2 linked regions of the Homo sapiens genome follow. The protein of the gene in region 1 interacts with the protein of each later gene in a pairwise test. Each region holds a gene or a part of one and is shown on either strand. Other genes may lie near its edges.

Region 1 (4,049 bases):
TTAAAAATGTTTTGCAAAACAGCTGACCTGGACTCAGCACAGAGTAGGCATTCAACTGTATGGGTAGATGAATCAATGAATGTAGATTAATGGCTGACTGGCTGGATAATAAATACATGGATGGACAGAAGATGGGTGGGTGGCTGAACAAATGATGAAAGGTGGATGGACAGATGGATAAAATAATCAATGAATGTAGTTCAATTGCTGGTTGGCTAGATGATATATTAATGGCTGGCTGGCTGAATGGATGGATGGATGGATGGATAGATGGACAGAAGATAGATGGTAGATTGAACAATTAGATGTATGTATGTATGGACTAATGTTGTAGGTAAAGTTACTCAGGCAGTAGCCCTAGGTAGACCTTGAACGGGCTTTACCACAAGAAAGAAGGAAGGAAGGAAGGAAGGAAGGAAGGAAGGAAGGAAGGAAGGAAGGAAGGGAATTTTACACACAAGAAATTTCTTGTATCTCTTGTATTTTAGGCTTTGCTGATGGTTTATTAAATAATTTCAAATAGTTGTTCATTTAAAACAAAGGTAAAGTAGCATTCCAATTCTGTAGATCCCAATGTCATCATTTGAAAGTATTTTACCATTGCATATGCCACCATCAAATATCACAATTAAACACAATAGGCAATCACTGAATTGCAGATGCCACATTTTAAACATTTATTAATAAAACTTCTGGCCCAATGCTGGGTTGAAAGTCAGGAGTTGTGGTCCTAGAGACCTAGGGAAAGATAGGCTGCTATATTTTTCCATCCTTGGAGTGAAGACACCACACTGGTCATGGCAAGCATCAGCAATCAGCAATCAGCATGGGTTGGGGTGGACATAGATTTTAATGTGATGAGAGGATCCTTCCAGGTGAAATTACCCACCAGAGGATTAGAACACTTTGGTTCCTCTTCCTATAGATAGGTGTATTGTTCACTTTCCACGTCCTCCAGAAAGCAAAGGAAATCAACATTCTATAACCATCAATCACATCACTTCCATTCATAGTATCCAACATTCACTAACAGCTACATTTTGAGCGTCTACTATGTGTATGGAAGAGATACAGTCCTTGTCCTAAAATGAACTCAATGAAAGGGAAAAATGCCATATATACTCATCCTCCCTCTCCCCATTTTAATGCTTTATAAGAGAGAGGAATGTTTCTTCTAAAGATGAAGCTGTAAGTAGCAAATGTCTATTTATAAATCATCATTTAAAATGGCTATCTCATGTAAATTCCCCCAAAATCACTCCTCACTGGGCTTGGAGTGAATGATAATTTTCCACAACAATAAATAGATTGTGGACAGCCAAATTTTACCCTGATATTTGTATATGTTAAGTATGAAACCTGTATTACAAACATTTTAGTAAAGGAAGCATTCTGAAGTAGGTGGCAATGCAATAGCAGTCTTAGAAATAATAATTGCCAGGGCCTATTTTCCAGTTTCTTCAGTTAATAAAAAAAGTATTTATGGAGTTAGAAGAAAAATAACAAAGAGCTAGACGTATGTGATGATCATTACAAGGAATCTCGCTTCCCCCTTCCCAGCAACAAGGAAAAATGATTCATCAGGCATCACGAAAGAATGGGGAAAAACTAAAAAGGAAGATGTAAACAAATGAGGACAAGTTTTTCTTCTTTAGAATAAGAATAATATCTCAACCAAAAAGATTCCAAGGGGAATTGCTGTAGAAATTTATCAAACTGAGCTGTGTCAGTGGCAAATTAGGTGCATATTGTTCTTTTACAACCATAGATCCAGTTGCAGAGTCCTGGCATTGCTGGGCTTCACCAATTGCAGTGTCAGGAACTTGCTGCTTGGTGGACATGATAAGCAGCTCAAAGGCTATCTAACAGTAATATATCACTTTGTCACATTTCATAGTGTTTGCTGTAATAAATTGATTCACTACCTGTGCATTGCTTTTACTAAGAATAATAAAACTTAACTATCTTTCTGGATCATTCTGATTTGATGTTCTGCTAAAAACATGAGTTCTTTTTCCTGAAAACTAAAATCAAGTGTTAATTACTTCTGCTATTCCTGCAATGTCAGGGGGTTCAGGAAGAGGATGAAAAAACTGATTAAAATTCCTGGAACGAGCTCCTAGAAGCCTTGAGAGTGAATATCTCTCATATACCTCATAAATATAGAGAGAAGAGGGGCAAAAGAGGGGAGGAAAGAAGTATCAGGTGTGGCCCTCAGAGCTAGGGGATGTTGAGGAACGGGGTTTGCTCTGTTCTAAGATAAAGTAATGGTGCCAAAAGCAGGAAGAGCATTTCTGTCCCCCTTCAAACAAAATAGAGCTGACTGCCGGGCGTGGTGGCTCACGCCTGTAATCCCAGCACTTTGGAAGGCTGAGACGGGCGGATCACCTGAGGTCAGGAGTTCGAGGCCAGGCTGGCCAATATGGTGAAACCCCATCTCTACTAAAAATATAAAAATTAGCCGGGCGTGGTGGCGCATGCCTGTAGTCCCAGCTACTCGGGAGGCTGAGGCAACAGAATTGCTTGAACCCGGGAGGTGGAGGTTGCAGTGAGCAGAGTTCGCACCAATGCACTCCAGCCTTGGCAACGGAGTGAGACTCCGTCTCAAAATAAATAAATAAATAAATAGAGCTAAAGAGGCTGGGTGTGGTGGCTCGCGCCTGTAATCCCAGCACTTTGGGAGGCTGAGGTGGGCAGATCACAAGGTCAGGAGATCAAGACCACCCTGGCTGACATGATGAAACTATTAAAAATACAAAAAAATTAGCCGGGTGTGGTGGCGGGCGCCTGTAGTCCCAGCTACTCGGGAGGCCGAGGCAGGAGAATGGTGTGAACCCGGGAGGCGGAGCTTGCAGTGAGCCAAGATCTTGCCACTGCACTCCAGCCTGGGTGACAGAGCAAGACTCTGTCTCAAAAAAAAAAAAAAAAAAAAAAATAGAGCTAAAGAGCCAAGACCCAAGAATAGCCAGAAAGACAATAAAAGACAGACAAATATGATTTTCAAACAGTACAGAATCAATTATCGGGGAATTGAGACCATCCTCAGAATTGCTCTGGATGATTCTGGGGGTAAATAGGGTTACTGGAATGATTTGAGTGGGCACTGTAGCACAGTGAGATTGATGGACTTTGAAATCAAACCTACCTGGTTTTAAATCCTGTTACTATTACTTTCTAACCATGTGACTGTAGGCAAGTTGCTTTACATGTGCCATATAATAGCAATGATAATGCTAATGATAATATTAAGTATTTATTACATGGTAGAAATCAGACTAGATGTTTTGTATGCATCATCTCACTTAATTCTTACTGCAATATTATGCATATTTTATTATCACTGTTTTTCAAATCCATCGTTTTAACCACTCAGCCACGACTACGTGCCTCATCTCTGTTTTTCAGATGAAGGAATTGACACTCAAATACGTAGAGTAACTTGTCTTTCAGAATGAAACAAGACTGGTGAAAGGAGTTGACCTAGAACTCTATTTACTCTCCCCAGGCTTTACTCAACACACTTACATTAGATTTTTATCAGGTATGTATATTTAAGAACAGCAAAGAAAAACATTTGTTATATTCGCTATGACATTACTCATTTTATTTACACCTCTATTTTTAAGACTATTCATTTAATTAAGACTTTATAAGAATGTGGTTTCAGGATATAAAAGTGTTGACTGAGCCACATCCGCTTGTGTGAAAAACAAGATCTGTGGAAATCCAAATGCATTTTTATTTACTATTGACCTTATGGGAATATAAGTATAACTAGAAACAAACCAAGCAAATTTACTAATGACTCTACTCAGCTGGGAGCATTAGCTAGGGTTCTATGTCCTAAGTCTTTGACCTGGCTTTGTTACTATAAGATTACAATCTCCTTTTAGGCAAGGACCATCCATGTTATTTATGTTTGTCTCATCCACAATACATACTATAGCTCCTATCACAGAATGGATGGTCAATAAAACAATAAAATATTCTTACTTATCTGGGCTTTGGTTTCTGGAGGGTTGGATTTGGATCATTGTTAAGGTCCCTTC
Region 2 (4,055 bases), on another chromosome or scaffold:
TTATTTGCAGTGTGTCATTTACTTATGGCTGAGATCACACAGATGGCAAATAACACTCAGGATTTAAAGCCAGGTCTATTAGACCTCAAAATTCAGTCTTGTAGTTACTACTTCAAAGAAGCCCCAGGCTGTAAATGCAGGACTAAAACCTGTTCCGGGGCAGGGGAAGAAAATACGTGAAGGAGCATCAGTGATACATAAGGATCAGAAACCAACAATTCTAAAGTCAGGAAAGTGATGCCTATTTGGGTGGAGTACCAAGCAGGGGAAATAAATGCCTTTCTTGTATATTATCTGCACCAAACAAAACAGATTTACAAGCATCTCATTAAACCCAAGGGAAGGTGTTCCTGAAATGTTTTCAGGAATGGTAAATTGGTAAATTTAAATTCATTCTATAGTTATTCATTTAAGTTTAATATGATTTTTTTTTTTTATTTCGTGCTCTAGGGAATTAAGGGACTTCTGTAGAGTCACTGGGAGCATATATCCACTGTGTTATTTTCCTCATAAGATTTGAACCTCCTTGATCACAGATTGATTTCCATGAAGGTTTTCATAAATCTAACTAACTCCTATTTGAAAGAGATGACTGCATTTATGCTTGGTGGTCTTCATGTTACAATGAACATGTCTTTAGTTTCTTATGATTTGTATATGCCACTTGTTTACAAGATAGCCTAGGGTTTTCCATCTATTTTTTTATCCAGAGGACCTCAGCTTACATCTCTCTATTAACATCTATGCCTAATGAGAGAAGGTTGCTTCCCTGTGACTTATACAAAATCAGTGACCAGCTGTGGCATTAATGGAAGAGGGGCCAGAATGCATCTCGGTAATATATCAGTGTTCTTTTTCTTGTAACTTAGTTTTTAAATTTCTCGCCCATGTATACCTTTCGAGGATCTCCAAAAGCCCATGTATATACTCCTTCCAAGTTTCTCTCACTGGCCATAGACCATTAACGCATCAAGAATGGAAAATGAAGGTAGCCATAGGCCAAAAAATACCTACTCCCTGAGTGCTCTGCATTCTGATCCAGGGATAGCAATGATCTCAATCAAAAGCAAATTCCTCGCAACTTCTCTAAGATCTCCTCTCCCTTCCTGTACAATATAGGACTATTCAGCTCTTAACTTGATGGAGAAGAAAAAATGAGGGCTTTGGTGATGAGTTGAATCCTCACTACAGTTTGTTAACTGTGTGAACCTTGATCATATCACCACCTCTGCATTTGTTTCTGTATCTATAAAACATGCATGATAACCCATGTAGAGCCATTGCAAGGATTAAAAACATTATAAGTAGGTCGAGTGCAGTGGCTCATGCCTGTAATCCCAGCATTTAGGGAGGCTGAGGCAGGAGGATTACTTGAAGCCAGGAGTTCAAGACCAGCCTGGACAACATAGTGAGACTCCATCTCTACAAAAAAAGTTAAAAAAATCAGATGGGGCTGGGCGCGGTAGCTCACGCCTGTAATCCCAGCACTTTGGGAGGTCAAGGCGGACGGATCACGAGGTCAAGAGATTGAGACCATTCTGGCCAAAATGGTGAAACCCTGTCTCTACTAAAAGTACAAAAATTAGCTGGGCGTGGTGGCGCTTGCTACCTGTAATCCCGGCTACTTGGGAGGCTGAGGCAAGAGAATTGCTTGAACCTGGGAGGCGGAGGTTGCAGTGAGCCGAAATCACACCACTGCACTCCAGCCTGACGACACAGCGAGACTCCATCTCAAAACAAAAACAAAAACAAATTCAGATGGATGTGGTGGTGTGTGCCTGTAGCCCTACCTACTCACGAGGCTGAGGCAGTAGGGTTGCTTGAGCTCAGGAGTTCAAGGTTTTAGTAAGCTATGATGGCACCACTGTATTACAGCCTTGGTGGCAGAACAAGACCCTGTCTAAAAAAAAAAAAACAGTATAAGTAAAATGCACTGTGCCTGGCTCATTGTAAGCACTTTGTAAATGATAGTTTTTATTAACATGCATTCATCAGTAAAAAGAGATTGTATAGGATTTCCAGAATGTTTTTTTTCCATTTTTATTCAGTGATTCAGGTGAAACCTGGGCTTTTGAGTCAGTTTGTATTCAAATCTCTGCTCTATCGTTTACTTGCTGTGTAACATTGGGCAAATGAACCTTTCTGTGCCTCAGTTACATCATCTGCAAAATAAGGAATATAACCTATCTTATAATGTTGTTTTCAATTCTAAAAGAATTATTTTTAGTACCTACTCTCTGCCAAGCATTAAGGTGCTAACAGTGTCTGCGTCTGAGGATTAAATGTAGAACTATATGAAGTACTCCCAACAATGTCCAGGCTTATGTTAAAAACTTAATAGATGGCTCAGACTTGATCTGTTTCTTAGAATGAGAGAATTAGTTATTTCTGGCTTTTATATAAAATGTTTAAATGTCTGTAATTTAGTATCTTGTTGCGTCTCTAATATTCCCAAGAGGCTCAAGGAGAGGAACTGTACAGCTATTTTCTGAATATACCTAGGCCCACTCTGATCCTCTGCTATTATTTTTCCAGTGTCACTGCAAAGATAAAAGCCATTGAAGCAAAACTGAAAATGATGGCGGAAAATCCTGATGCAGAGTATCCAGCAGCGCCTGTTTATTCCTACTTTAAGCCACCAGATAAAAAAAGGACTACTCCATATTCTAGAACAGCATGGAAATCTCGAAGATGATGGTTGTGAATTACTGTAGCAGCAAAAGCAAATTGGTCTCCACACCTAAAATCGTCTGCCTGTGTACTTTGTAGATGTGAATGGTACTATTCAACGGAGCACAATCACATGTTAGCATTTGGTAACATAATGTTTTTGGATGTTCTTATGGATGTTTCTTCCCTAAACTATGTATGGAATTGAGCATCATCCAGAATAAATAGCGTTGTATCCCAAATTGTGATTTGAACCCTGGGATGCTCTAATTGGCTGGTTGGTTTGGATTTGTAACTCCAGAAACATTCTATAGTGTGCCAGAGCAAAAGGCAAATACACAAAATATTATTTAAATCAGGAAACTAAAAATATTAACATCTATTAAAAAATTGAGCATTTTTCTACGCTCGTGTGTCTTTTACAACATAAAGAAAAAGTAAAAGGCAGGGAGGGAAGTGAGAGACAGATTTTAAATCATGTTCAGAACTGTTGTTCCAGAATTTACTACGGCAATCCCTCCAACTGGACTGAAAAAGAGAAAGTTCTTGGCAAAAAGGAGCTGATTCTTTGAACAAATGTTGTAGTAATCTGTTTAAGAATTATGCTTATTGTTTCAAAATCCCAACTAGGAAAACATGGTGTATATCTTAAAATTGTTTGTGTTGACAAAACTAGAATCAAATTTAACATTTTATACCACAACACAAGTTCTATTTGGAAATTGAACTTTTATTCTATAGCAACCATTTTTTTCAAATCTAAATAACCATGCCTTCTATAATAACAAATGTTGCTATTATCATGGGACTTTTAAAATTACATTTATTGCATGGGATTGTTTTTATAGCATGAGAATGTTCTGTTTGGAATTATATCATGGTCAGTCTAAATAGAAAAAGCAAAATTTCTTTGAAAACCTAAACATTGCTATATTGGTCACTATCAAACATACAATTTTCTAATAATTGTGTAGCGGTCTAAGTGGAAGAGATTGCATTATCTTGTGCAGGACGAGGAGAGGACATGCAGTGGGCACAGAAAGTCAATGGAACAGATGCCACTGTGGCACCAAGACTGTAATGACTCTGTGTGGTAGGTAGTTTTAAAGGACTGCATGCCTTGGAAATGATTCTTCACTTGGAGAACATACTTGCCTCTAGATATGTTTGTCACTCTAAGCATCCTGAATATAACAATAGAGAAAGATAAGTCAACCAACAGATTTAGGGATGTGTTTCTTCAGCACATTTTGGTCATTTTGATGCCAAGTTTGACATACTGTTTAATTGGGCAGCACCTTTGCTCCTTTACCAGGTATGTATCACTTTGTTACTCCAGGTGCCATTCTTGGTGATGACAGAATGTTTATCACTATCGTTGTTAG

Evidence for each region. Proteins that work in one complex are often made in the same cells at the same time.
Region 2: the proteins of CLTRN (region 1) and RBM18 interact in a two-hybrid assay, tested with the Homo sapiens proteins (one large-scale study listed by BioGRID and IntAct).

What each region holds. Positions count from the first base shown.
Region 1 is NC_000023.11:15,629,972-15,634,020, forward strand, and holds part of CLTRN (collectrin precursor), read right to left. Parts: intron 1-4,049. UniProt on the Homo sapiens protein: Plays an important role in amino acid transport by acting as binding partner of amino acid transporters SLC6A18 and SLC6A19, regulating their trafficking on the cell surface and their amino acid transporter activity.
Region 2 is NC_000009.12:122,240,524-122,244,578, reverse strand, and holds part of RBM18 (probable RNA-binding protein 18), read left to right. Parts: intron 1-710; exon of another isoform or gene 711-835; intron 836-2,535; coding exon 2,536-2,695; 3' UTR 2,696-4,055.